Homo sapiens: one gene and its partner. The protein of the gene in region 1 purifies or fractionates together with the protein of each later gene. This does not show direct contact. Each region holds a gene or a part of one and is shown on either strand. Other genes may lie near its edges. The genes, in order: LDAF1 and FAF2.

What was found.
Region 2: the proteins of LDAF1 (region 1) and FAF2 purify together in Homo sapiens (affinity purification with mass spectrometry; 3 studies listed by BioGRID and IntAct, with this or other methods). This does not show direct contact.

The regions. Positions count from the first base shown.
Region 1 is NC_000016.10:21,175,533-21,181,371, reverse strand, and holds the end of LDAF1 (lipid droplet assembly factor 1), read right to left. Parts: intron 4,236-5,839; coding exon of another isoform or gene 4,214-4,235; exon of another isoform or gene 4,211-4,213; coding exon of another isoform or gene 4,138-4,210; exon of another isoform or gene 2,576-4,137; coding exon of another isoform or gene 2,560-2,575; exon of another isoform or gene 2,440-2,559; intron 1,898-2,439; coding exon 1,816-1,897; 3' UTR 756-1,815; downstream 1-755. UniProt on the Homo sapiens protein: Plays an important role in the formation of lipid droplets (LD) which are storage organelles at the center of lipid and energy homeostasis. In association with BSCL2/seipin, defines the sites of LD formation in the endoplasmic reticulum.
Region 2 is NC_000005.10:176,451,385-176,458,384, forward strand, and holds part of FAF2 (FAS-associated factor 2), read left to right. Parts: intron 1-930; exon of another isoform or gene 931-1,844; intron 1,845-1,933; exon of another isoform or gene 1,934-3,613; intron 3,614-7,000. UniProt on the Homo sapiens protein: Plays an important role in endoplasmic reticulum-associated degradation (ERAD) that mediates ubiquitin-dependent degradation of misfolded endoplasmic reticulum proteins.

The DNA of each region.
Region 1 (5,839 bases):
GCTCACTCACTCTTGCATTAGAAAGAAAACTTCAGAAGGGAGACCATTGCATTCTTCATTATTAAAGCTGCAGAACCCAGCTGGGTAGATAGCATAGAGAGATAATATCAGACAGTTGTATGAATGAAGGAAACATCCAATAAACAGTAACTGTTAATATTAATAGTTATATTAATAGTGGGCTGATCTATCGCCTCCCCTGTTTCTTGAATGGCCACCATCCCAGCCCTGTCCCATCTGCATATCCCATCCTCCTAGCCACCATGATTGGTCTGGGGTCGCTCACATGACCCAAGTCTATCCAATCAGAGCCAAACCCAGAATATTTGTATATACTGTTGGAAAAAAGCAGTTTTCTTGCCCAGGATGGAGCTCCTGGGACCTCCGAAAGGGGTGGCGGGCCTGCCTGCAAAAGCAGCTCACACTGAGGAAAGCTATACTGAGAGATGAGGGGTGAGAGATGCTTAATGACACCACCTGAGCCCCTGGAATCAGCAGCACCTCAAGATCTACCCCTTGGCTTTTTGGTTGAGTGAAACTAATCCTTCTCCCTACCACCCCTCTTTTTAAAGTAATGTGGAATTGGGTGTCTATTGCGAGCAACTAAAAAAATCCCTATTACCCAGCACCAGTCATGAAATCGACAGAGGAATAGGCAGGTCTGATGTATGGAGCAGAAGGGAAAAAGAGTAAAGAAAAAAAGCCCACCCAAATAAATATTTAATGAAATGCCACGCAAATAAACCACTCAGTAATTCCACTGGGAAATCCCATAGGAAGTTTTATTTTTACTTACTAGTCCTTTAGCATTTTTATTTTAAGAAATGGCTTAGGCTGGGCACAGTGGCTCACGCCTGTAATCCCAGCACTTTGGGAGGCCAAGGCAGGTGGAGCACCTGAGGTCAGGAGTTTGAGACTAGCCTGACCAACATGGTGAAACCCCATCTGTACTAAAAAAAATACAAAAAAAAACTAGCCGGGCACGGTGGCGGGTGCCTGTAATCCCAGCTACTTGGGAGGCTGAGGCACGAGACTCACTTGAACCTGGGAGTTGGAGGTTGCAGTGAGCCGAGACTGCACCATTGCACTCCAGCCTGGGCAACAAGAGGGAAACTCCGTCACAAAAAAAAAAAAAAAAAAAAAAGAAAGAAATTACTTAAAGGACAAGCTCTTTAGAACAATACAACAGTACCAAGTGCAAATATGTAAAAGATTAACAGTACTTAACAGTACTCAACAGTTACAGTGGAAACTACACCTTTAGACTTTTTTGAAAATACTCTTGGCCACAAAGTTACATTTGGACTCTATTTTCCAACTTGGAGAGGCCAAATGTTGCTGTTCTTTCTGATAAAAAGCAAATACCACAGAAGGGCTTGTTCTGTTTTGGATTTTTTTTTTCATTTTGTTTCACATGAGTGAAAAAATTAACAGCTGCCCTCATTTCTGAAAACAAAAAACTATAAACAATCACTGTTGCTCCCAATGGGACCGTTGGACATAAGCCCTGAGGCTTTGGGGTCAACGGGCTAGACTCTAGAAGCCCAGGACCCCGCCAAGGTCAAGTCTGCATACTTGGGGCAGGGCGAGCTGTTGAACCATCGCATTTCTCTGCTGCTTCTTTACATGGGAACCAACACAAGAACAACACAATCCCTAAATTGGCTGCTGCGGGATCCTACAAGTAAGTGAAAAAGCGAGAGGACACAGCCAAGGAGTGCTTGCCTACCCAGCCCCCTTCTTCTAAGCCATAATCCCAAGGGGTGAGTATGATCCAGCAGTACTTGAAAAGAAGCCCGGCCTCTGAGCAGTCACTCATTCCTGGTAAAGCCCCTCGAATTCTGCAGACTTCATGGCTGGCAGAAAGTCACAACTGGTGTTTTGCTGTGTCAGTGGCCTGTCGGATAACAAGAAGAGATCGTTAGCTCTAGGGCCTCAGTAAAGAGCAACGTTGGAAGTGTGCATAGCTGAATACATGATGTTCTTTTTCCTGATTTTTAGCTGCTTCTTGCAACCACACCAGGCCTATGTCCATTATACAGATGAAGAAACTGAGGGCACAGGAGGTTAAAATGACCAGGTTAGGAGTAGGGTTACGGCCCCTTTTCCATTTTCTAATTTGGATATTTATTATGTTTTTCTTAATTATCTGTGTCCTCACAACAACCCAGTGAGAATGGTAGATTAAGAGTAGCCATTTTGTCTATTTTACCAATGGACAAAAACTGAAATCAGAGAAGTCAAGCAGCCCGTTCAAGACCACACAGCTGAAAACATGGCAGGGCGGGGATTCAGACCATATCTTCTGATTTCAATTAGTTTCTTGACACCTTCCATGGAAAGGAGTTCGGGGGAGGATTGTATTAGTCCGTTCTTATGTTGCTAATAAAGACCTGAGACTGGGTAATTTATAAAGAAAAAGAGGTTTCATGGACTCACAATTCCACATGGCTGGGGAGGCCTCACAATCATGGTGGAAGGCAAAGGAAGATCAGAGGCACTTCTTACATGGCGGCAGGCAAGAGAGCATGTGCAGGGGAAATGCCCTTTATAAAACCATCAGATCTCGTGAGACCTACAATCAGGAGAACAGCAACCAGCGGCCATCTGACAAAGTTCTAGTCAATGAAGTCTTTTGAAGTATAGTGGTGAGAGGTCCTGGGAAATATTTTATTCACATTTTTAAAAGGGTCAGACTCCATTTTTTTCTCCTTTTCTGCTGCCTTGAAGGTAGCTGGTAGATCTGGAGCTGCAGCAGCTATCTTGTGGCCATAAGGTAGGAAACCAATGGGCTAAGGATAGCAACACAGGAAGGCAAAAGGTGCCTGGTATGTTGATACCACACTGGCTGCACCAGCCCTGGGCTGTCTCCAGTTTTTCATTAAGCAATAAAAAAAAGTTCCCTGTGTGTTTAAACTAGTATCTACTTTGGTTTTTTTCATTATTTGCCACCTAAACCATTCCTCCCTGATAACAAAAAACTAAGAAAGAAGCCTTTCCTTTTCTTAGTAAAGATGTAAGGAAGCTAGTTATGCTCAGGCTGGTTTGGAAGATTATGATATGGGGTAGTGAGTTTGGTGGCTCTGCAAATAAACACAGCTGCCCAGGGCCCCTACTTCTCCTGAGCTGCAGGCCCTGGAAGGTCTTGCAGTCTCCATAACCAAGCAGTGTGGTTTTGCCCCTCAGAGGCTAGCTGATCTACATAGGAGGCAGGTCAGTGTATTTGATCTAAATATTGTTTAGTTGGGTTTCATATGTAAGGGAAACTTACAGTTTTGTTTCCTTTTTCTTTTCTTTTTTAAAAATTTAAGCTGTATTATCTTTTATGTTTTAGGGCCAAAATTCCATTAAATCATGAAATAAATTATATAGCTCCTCTTCCCCCCATTCCATGCTTTCGATCATTTAATGAGGGAGTTATCTTTTTTTGAGTTATAAAGAATTCACTAATGCAGGCTGGGTACAGTGGCTTACACCTATAATCCCAGCATCTTGGGAGGCTGAGGTGGGTGGATCACTTGAGCTCAGGAGTTCAAGACCAGCCTGGCCAACATGGTGAAACCCCACCTCTACTAAAAACACAAAAATTAGCCATGCATGGTGGTGCACACCTATAATCCCAGCTACTCGGGAGGCTGAGACAGAAGAACTGCTTGAACCCAGAAGGGAGAGGTTGTGTGAACCAAGATCAAGCCACTGCACTCCAGCCTGGGTGAGAGTGAGACTCGTCTCAAAAAAAAAAAAAAAAAAAAGAATTCGCTAATGCAAGGGTTCTCAGATGAAAACCATGTTCACAATAACATGACCTATTATATGCCTTTTTCACTCACATTCTCTCACAAGGGAACAGTGCAATTTTTCAAAATATATTTGGAAGATCTGCATGACTCAATGAATTGATATTCTCCCATTGACCAATGGGTAAAGTTAGAAAATCATGCATGATAAAGATCAATTTAAAGTGTGACACAGACCTGAAGATTTCAATAAAATAGAGTAGAAAAATTTCACATTTCAGCTAACCTTTAAGAAACTATCACTTACGGAGTTTTGGTGGACTATCATAGAATATCCACAATCGTTTAAAAAAGCTTTGCCTCCCTCTCCCAACCGCATGTTAGTGATGCTAGGTCTTCTTCAAATACTCCAAACAGGACAACATAGCACAACAGAATGAATGCAGCCACACAAACGAGAAGCCGGCTGACAACTGTTAAGGCAGATATGAAAGAGATCTGTAAAATGTAAAATAATACCACTCACAAATTTCATTTTGTTTTGGAAAATATAGTTACTTTTCATTAAAATTTGTTATTTATATCAACAGGTAATATTGTTCCTTTTAAATGAATAGATATTTTTAAAATTTATGCTATGATTTCTCATAGAATAATTATTTCAGAACAAGAAACAATGAGGAAGAAAATTTTTTAAAAAGAAATAATTATTAATATTCTTTTTTTTTTTTTTTCCAGACAGAGTCTAGCTCTGTCACCCAGGCTGGAGTGCAGTGGTACAATCATAGCTCACTGCACCCCCAACCTCCCAGGCTCAGGCCATCCTCCCTCCTCAGCCTCTTGAGTAGCTGGGACCACAAGCATGCACCAGCTAATATTTAATTTGATTTAATGTAATTTATGTTATGTTTATTTTAATTTATTTTATTGTATATAGTTTTATGTCATGTTAGTTATTTATTTTATATTTCAGCTCATTTCATTTGTTTTTTGAGACAGGGTCTTGCTCTGTTGCCCAGGCTGGAGTGCAATGGTGTGATCACAGCTCACTGCAGCCTTGAACTCCTGGGCCCAAATGATCCTCCCATCTCAGCCTCCTGAGTAGCTGGGACTACAGGCACGCACCACCACAGTTGGCTAATTTTTGTATTTTTTGTAGAGATGTGGTCTTGCCATGTTGCCTAGGTTGGTCTTAAACCCCTGGCCTCAAGTGATCTTCCCTCCTTGGCCTCCCAAAGTGCTATTAATACAATTAACCACATAAATAACATCTCTTCAGATGCCTCAATAATTTTTAAGAAGGTAAAATGGGACTTGAGAACAAAAAGCTTAAGAACCTCTGCCCACGTGGAAACAATTGGTTGGCAGCAATAGGGGAAGATAAGGAGATCAAGTACAAATCCTGGATTTGTTTTTCAATTTCTTCATTGATAAGTAGGGAGTCAGATTCTGCTACTTCCTGTGGTATAATCTTTAAGAACTCACCCTGTTACAGCAGCGTTCAGAGGCAGGGAGGAATTTTATTTCAGAAGCATCACCCTCAATATGCAAAATAGGCCAATATTTCTCCTTTTACATCTTTTAAGACTGGGAGTGAGTTAGTGCCTTACGCCTATAATTCCAGTTCATTGAGAGGCCAACGGGGGAGGATTGCTTGAAGCCAGGAGTTTGAGAATGGCCTGGGCAACACAGCAAGACCCCATTTTATAAGTAAAATACAAATGAACAAACAAAAGACTAAGAGTGATCAAAGCGATTTTTGAAAAGGTGATTATGACTCCAGGGTTGATTCAATTAAGCAATCCTATAAGAGCCATCCTTGAGCAATTTTATATTATACCCACTTCACCCTTTATTTTTCAACATAGGAATAATAACAGGATAAACTTTTGGTAAGGAGTTCAAGGGCTGTTTTGTAGAAAAACAAAACTCAGGATATCAGTTCTTATAGAGCAATGGTTGGCCAAATCCAGCAAGCTGCCTGTCTTTGTAAATAAAGTTTTACTGGAACACAGCCATGCCCATGCATTTACTTCCTGGTCTGTGCTGCCTTCATGCTACGGCAACAGAGTTGACTAACTGCAGTAGAGACTATATTATTT
Region 2 (7,000 bases), on another chromosome or scaffold:
TTTTTAAGTAGAGACGGGAGTCTTGCTATGTTGTCCAGGCTGCTCTCAAACTGCTGCCTCAGAGGTTGAGATTACAGTGTTGAGATGAGTTGCCTCAGTGTTGAGATTACAGATGTGAGCCACCACACCTGGCCCCTTAACTCTTTTAAACCTTTTAATATAACAGTGTAAAGGGTTAATCTTGTTCATTTTAATAATGAAGAAACAGGTTCTGAGAGGTCAAATAGCTTTCACAAGTAGTAAGTGGTAGAGATTTAGAAATTTATATCCACAACCATCTTCTGTGTAACTTAATGGAGAAGTCAAGTACACACATGAATAATGGGTATGCGATATATATAGATATATATATATGTGTATATATGTATATTGTATATATACATATATATACGTGTGTGTGTGTATATATATATACATATATATATACACACATATATATATATACATATATATATATACACACATATATATACACATATATATATACACACATATATATATATATATATTTTTTTTTTTTTTTTTTTTTTTTTTTTTGAGACAACATATCTCTGTTGCCCAGGCTGAAGTGCAGTGGCGTGATCATAGTTCATTGCAACCTCAAACTCCTGGGCTCAAGTGATCCTCCCACCTCAGCCTCCTAAGTGGCTAGGACTAGAAGTGCCTGGCTAATTTTTGTCTGTTTGTTTTTGAGACGGAGGCTTGCTCTGTTGCCCTGGCTGGGGTGCAGTGGTGCGATCTCGGCTCACTGCAGCCTCTGCCTCCCAGGTTTAAGCTATTCTCTTGCCTCAGCCTCCTGAGTAGCTGGGATTACAAGTGCCTGCCACCATGCCTGGCTAATTTTTGTATTTTTAGTACAGACAAGGTTTCCCCGTGTTGGCCAGGCTGGTCTCGAACTCCTGACCTCAGGTGATCCACCTGCCTCGGCCTCCCAAAGTGCTCGGATTACAGGCGTGAGCCACCGGACCTGGCCAGCAGGTAACATTTATTAAGTATCTACTATGCCTTAGGCATGGTGTTAATGTATAACTATTATGTTTAATCCTTACAGCAGTTTACAAAGTACCATAGGTGGTATGCATAATGAAGCAGATCTATTGATGTATTTACTCAAGGTGATTAAGCTACTAGGTAGTGGAATTCTAGTGGGTCTAGATCTGGACTTGATGGCTGAGTTCTTACTAATATACCTTGCTACTTTGGAAGAGGAATAGAGTTTCAACATGTGTTGGGCAGAATATTCAAAGCTAAAGAAATAGCTTGCACAAGGTAGGGAGATGGGAAAGTGAAGTGTCTGTGGTGATGAACTGAAGAGTATTGAAAGTGGACAATAAGACTAGAAAGGTAAATTAAAGCCAGATTTTGGAGGCCTTTCAAAGCTGTTCACAATGTTTAAACTTTAATCTGTAGATGAGGGGAGCCATCAAAGGATTTTTCAACTAGGGAGTGACACTAGGTTTCAGGTTTGCTTCATTAGCAGTATGGAGTATGTGTTTGGAATCTCCACAGGGGTCAGTACAGAACAGGATGACACTGCTAGGAGTTGGTTCTCAATATGTTTCTTCATTTGGTATATTGAAATCAGTAAAAGTAAAATATTTTGGAAATCTCAGGTTTCCTGTATTTCAATTTTTTTATGATGTTATTTGGTTAGAACTCCCCAAGGCATTTTATTTCATATCATGTTTCTCAGCCCATTTGATATCTTCCAGGATTTTTCTACAGTTCTCCACTTCTGTTTATTTTGGAACCAGTTGAATATGAATAACTATTGCAGACAATTGTTTTCAGCTATTTCAGATGGGAAAGAATAAGGACATAGGTTTTAAGGAGAGCTAATGCAGGTATGTGGAAGGTTACTTTTATTGGCGTTCATTTTCCCAAATTTCCAAATATAGCAGACTCTCCTAGTGTCTTGGTTTACTGCCTCTAGGTTGCTGTTTGAACAACTGGAGAAGGATGACATGGACAGAGAGAAGGGGGAATTAAAGGAGTTATGCAGGCCAGCAGAGGAAGAAATGATCCCTTTTCTGCTTGCACAGGAGGAAGAAATTTATGACCCTCATCCTTTTAAATGATAGCCTGAACGCTGGGCTGTAGAATCAAATTTATAAGTCATTTTGAAAATCTTTCTTTTGGCTTCACCTGACTATATTACCTAAAGGAAAAAAAAACACATGGTGCTTTTTGTTCATGTATTTAAAACAGAACATACAGTGGTCCATTTGAGGGTTTTTTGCCAGAGAATTTGGCACTGTTGAGAAAACAAGAGCTTTGAAAATCCAGGCAAACATGACTTAACTTTTCAACAGCTTATGGTGAGTTCTGTGATCTTGAACAGGTTCTCACTTCTTTGAACCTCTTTCATTTTCTATAAAATGGAGATACTGGCCGGGCGCAGTGGCTCACACCTGTAATCCAAGCACTTTGGGAGGCCGAGGCTGGCAGATCACGAGGTCAGGAGTTCAAGACCAGCCTAGACAACATGGTGAAACCCCGTCTCTACTAAAAATACAAAAAAATTAGCTGGGCGTCGTGTCAGGTGCCCATAATCCCAGCTACTCGGAAGGCTAAGGCAGGAGAATTGCTTGAACCCAGGAGGCGAAGGTTGCAGTGATCCGAGACCGCACCACTGCACTCCAGCCTGGGCAAGAGCGAGACTCTAAAAAAAAAAAAATTGGAGATACTATTATCTAGTTCACAACATTCTTTTTATTTTTTACTTTAAAAAATCTAGTAGGCTGGGTGCCATAATCTCAGCACTTTGGGAGGCCGAGGCAGGCAGATCACTTGAGGCCAGGAGTTCGAGACCAGCCTGACAAACATGGTGAAACCCCGTATCTACTGAAAATATAAAAATTAGCCAGACATAGTGGCATGCACCTGTAATCCCAGCTACTCGGGAGGGTAAGGCAGGAGAATCACTTGAATTCTGGAGGCGGAGGTTGCAGTGAGCCGAGATCGTGCCACTGCACTCCAAGCCTGGGCAACAGAGTGCGACTCCGTCTCAAAATAAATAAATAAAAATAAAAATACAAAAAAAGTTAGCCCAGTGTGGTGGCACAGGCCTGTAATCCCAGCTACTCAGGAGGCTGAGGCATGGGAATCACTTGAACTCAGGAGGTGGAGGTACCAGTGAGCCAAGATCGTGCCACTGCACTCTAACCTGGGCAACAGAGCCAGATTCTGTCTGAAAAAAAAAAAAAAAAAAAAAAAAAAAAAAAAAATCTAATAATACATGCTTGTTGGAAGTTAGCAACATACAATTGTATTTTAAAAAGTAATCAAATCTTATTTTATTTCCCCATTCTAATTCCAGGTTTGTTGTTTATCTTTGTGTATTTTTGTCTTCTGCATACACAGCTTAATGTGGAAGCTCTCTTAACCTTAACCTTCACTTGACTGATTAATTGGAGCAGATATCCTCCTTTTCCTAAACTCTATTCTGTAATATGTTCAAGCATTTCTGCAAACTCTACTCTGTAATGCACTCAAGTGTCTCACCAGTCAAGTTGTATTCCTGACAAGAGGCAGTTATATTTGCTCCCAAACTAGTGTGTGCTGGTTATGTTTGTCACATGTGTTTAATTAAACACTACATAAACCTGTAAAATACCAGTGCAAAAAGAGTTTTCATCGATACGAAAACTAAATTAAAAGCTTTAAACAGGCTCTGTCTGGGGAAATTGCTAAAAAAAAAAATTGTTGTTTAGTTAGGTGTGGGCAAGTTAACTGTAAATGACTTAGGGAGAAATCATTGAGATACAACATTGTACACTTACTGCTTGGCAAGTGTTTAAGGTTGCACTACACTTAAGGAAATCAAATCAGTATGGGTTATGCTAAAAAGATCCCAGCCTGGGCAACATGGTGAAACCTCATCTCTACTAAAACTACAACAAAAAAATTAGCTGGTCGTAGTGGCGCATGCCTGTGGGCCTGTGATCCCAGCTACTTGGGAGACTGAGGTGGGAGCATCACCTTAGCCTAGGAGGTGAAGGCTGCAGTGGGCTGTGATTGCACCACTGCACTCCAGCCTGGGTGACAGAGTGAGACCCTGTCTCAAAAAAAAAAGTAAAAAATAGCCAGGCACAGTGGTGCACGCCTGTAATCCCAGCACTTTGGGAGGCTGAGGTGGGCAGATCACCTGAGGCCAGGAGTTTGAGACCAGCCTGGCCAACATGGTGAAACCCCATCTCTACTAAAATACAAAAATTAGCCAGATTTGGTGGCGGGTGCCTGTAATCCTAGCTACTCAGGAGGCTGAGGCAGGAGAATTGCTTGAACCTGGGAGGCAGAGGTTGCAGTGAGCCAAGGTCGCACTAGTGCACTCCAGCCTGGGTGACAGAGTGAGACTCCCTCTCAAAAAACTAAAAATAAAAACTAAAGAAGTTCCAAGGAGTGCTAGTGGATTCATTCCCTAAAGAAAACGATAGGCTTTTATCAGAAACTTATGTTCATGTGAGTACTTTATGTTAAAATGAAATATTTACATAAATATTCATTTATGTAAAAATGAAAACATGTAAAATGTTAAAATGAATATTTTTATTACTTTGACTTCAGTTAATTGATTAGTTATGGGTCTCATTCTCATTGGGTAAGAGAACTTCTGTCTTTGTCTTATAGAGATATGATTATATTATACTTAACTCTGCATAGCATAGGTAAGTAGTCATGAAGACTGACTGGGTTTGTTTGATTGAGACAGAGTTTTGCTCTTGTTGCCCAGGCTGCAGTGCAGTGGTGTGATCTCAGCTCACTGCAACCTCCACCTCCTGGGTTCAAGCAATTCTCCTGCCTCAGCCTCCCGAGTAGCTGGGATTACAGGTGTGTGCCACCACACCCGGCTAATTTTTGTATTTTTAGTAGAGATGGGGTTTTGCCATGCTGGCCAGGCTGGTCTTGAATTCCTGACCTGAGGTGATCCGCCTACCTCGGCCTCTCAAAGTGCTGGGATTACAGGCGTGAGCCACCGTGCCCGGCCCAAAATATATTTTTAAAACTTAAAATGAACAACTCAATCAAAAGGTAGGGAAAAGATCAGAACAGACAACTCACCAAAAAAGATATACAGATGGCATGTAAGCATATGAAAAGATGCTCAAATCTTTAAGGATTTGAGGTCCTTAAGGAATTGCAAATTAAAACAGCAATGAAACAGGAACTCTCCTGAGCTCAAGCAGTCCACCCCTTGGCCTCCCAAAGTGCTGGAATTACGGGTGTGAGCCACTGCACCCAGCCTCAACTGGAATTTCTGTTCCACTGGTCTTCCCCTATATATGCCAATATAACACTTAATTATAGAGGCTTATGATATATTTTGATCTGGAGGAACACCCCTGCCTCCACTCTGTTGCTCTTTTTCAGAGTTTTCCTGTTTATTTGCTCCTCTAAAAGAAATTTGAAATCAACTTTTTAAAGTTGAAATTTTATGAAATTTGTAAATGAACTTCAGGGGTTGTAGTTGACATCTTTATGTTGCTGAATCTGTTCAAGAACATAGTTATATCTTGGAAAGGTTTTGACATACTTACTCAGTAGTGTTTGCTGGCCTCCCTTTTTTGGGGTACTTCTTTATTTGACAAGTACAGACACTTATTATCAAGTTGGTTCAAAATGCGTTATTTTTTCAGAGTGGGCTGGGCATCGATATTTATGAACTCCTCTAAGTATTTAAGAGGAATATTTCTGAACCTTGCAAAGTAGTATACATTCTGATTACTCTGAGTAACAGATTACCTTTACAGCAGATAGTCTTTTAGAAGTAGGTCTTTGAGATGGGTATTGATAAAGATTAGTATTTTTTGTTTTGTTTTTTTGAGACGGAGTTTCGCTGTTGTCCCCAGGCTGGAGTGCAATGGCTCAACCTTGGCTCACTACAACCTTTGTCTCCCAGGTTCAAGTGATTCTTCTGCCTCAGCTTCCAGAGTTGCTGGGATTATAGGCGCCCACCACCACTTCTGGCTTATTTTTTTGTATTTTTAGTAGAGACAAGGTTTCACCATGTTGGGCAGGCTGGTCTCGAACTCTTGACCTCAGGTGATCCACCTGCCACAGCCTCCCAAAGTGCTGTGATTACAGGCGTGAGCCACTGTGCCCGGCCATAAACGTTAATTTTGTCATTTTTATTTTGGACCATCTGAGGATTATTTCACATATTCAAGGATTCTAGTTGTCGTTTCTCCAACATTGTATTTTTGCTTAAAATTAGTATCAAAAATGAAATAGTCATAAAACTGATTATTTGATTTGAACTGTTTTCAGGGGTGTGTGTGTGTGTGTGTGTGTTTAATACTACTGTTAGTGAGAGTGCCAGAAGTGATGAATAGCAGAAATCACCGTGAACACTTGGGGGGCCTGTGTGTGGGCCTTGGACTTTTCCACCAAGGAAATTATGAAAACTTTCTCACAGTCCTGGAATAAATTTGAAAGAGAACAATTTTTCATACTAAATACTGGGGAATATTTTTAAATGTGTGTTTGTAAATTCTTATTGGAGTTAAAGTCACAAAAAGTCACAGTCCTTAGTTAACCCTCTTGTCATATGCATTGCCACTGCCTCAGTTTATACTTCATTTCTCCTCTGGACTAAACTTGTATAACTGGTAGCCCACATTTAAAGTCTTCTCAATTCAGCCTTCCTACTTTTTCCAGAATAATATTTCTATTCTCTTTCTCTTCTCTTTTCACTCCTCTTCTCCCTTCTCTTCTCTTCCTTGACAGAGTATCTGTCGCCCAGGCTGGAGTGCAATTGTACAGTCTTGGCTCACTGCAGCCTCCGCCTGCTGGACTCAAGCCATCTTTCCAGCTCCCCTTCTTGCGTAGCTGGGACCACAGGCACGTGCCACCACGCCCAGCTAATTTTTGTATTTTTAGTAGAGATGGGGTTTCGCCATGTTGGCCAGGCTGGTATTGAACTCCTGGCCTTAAGTGATCCACCTGCCTTGGCCTTACAAAGTACTGGGATTACAGGCATGAGCCACCACGTCTGGCCTCA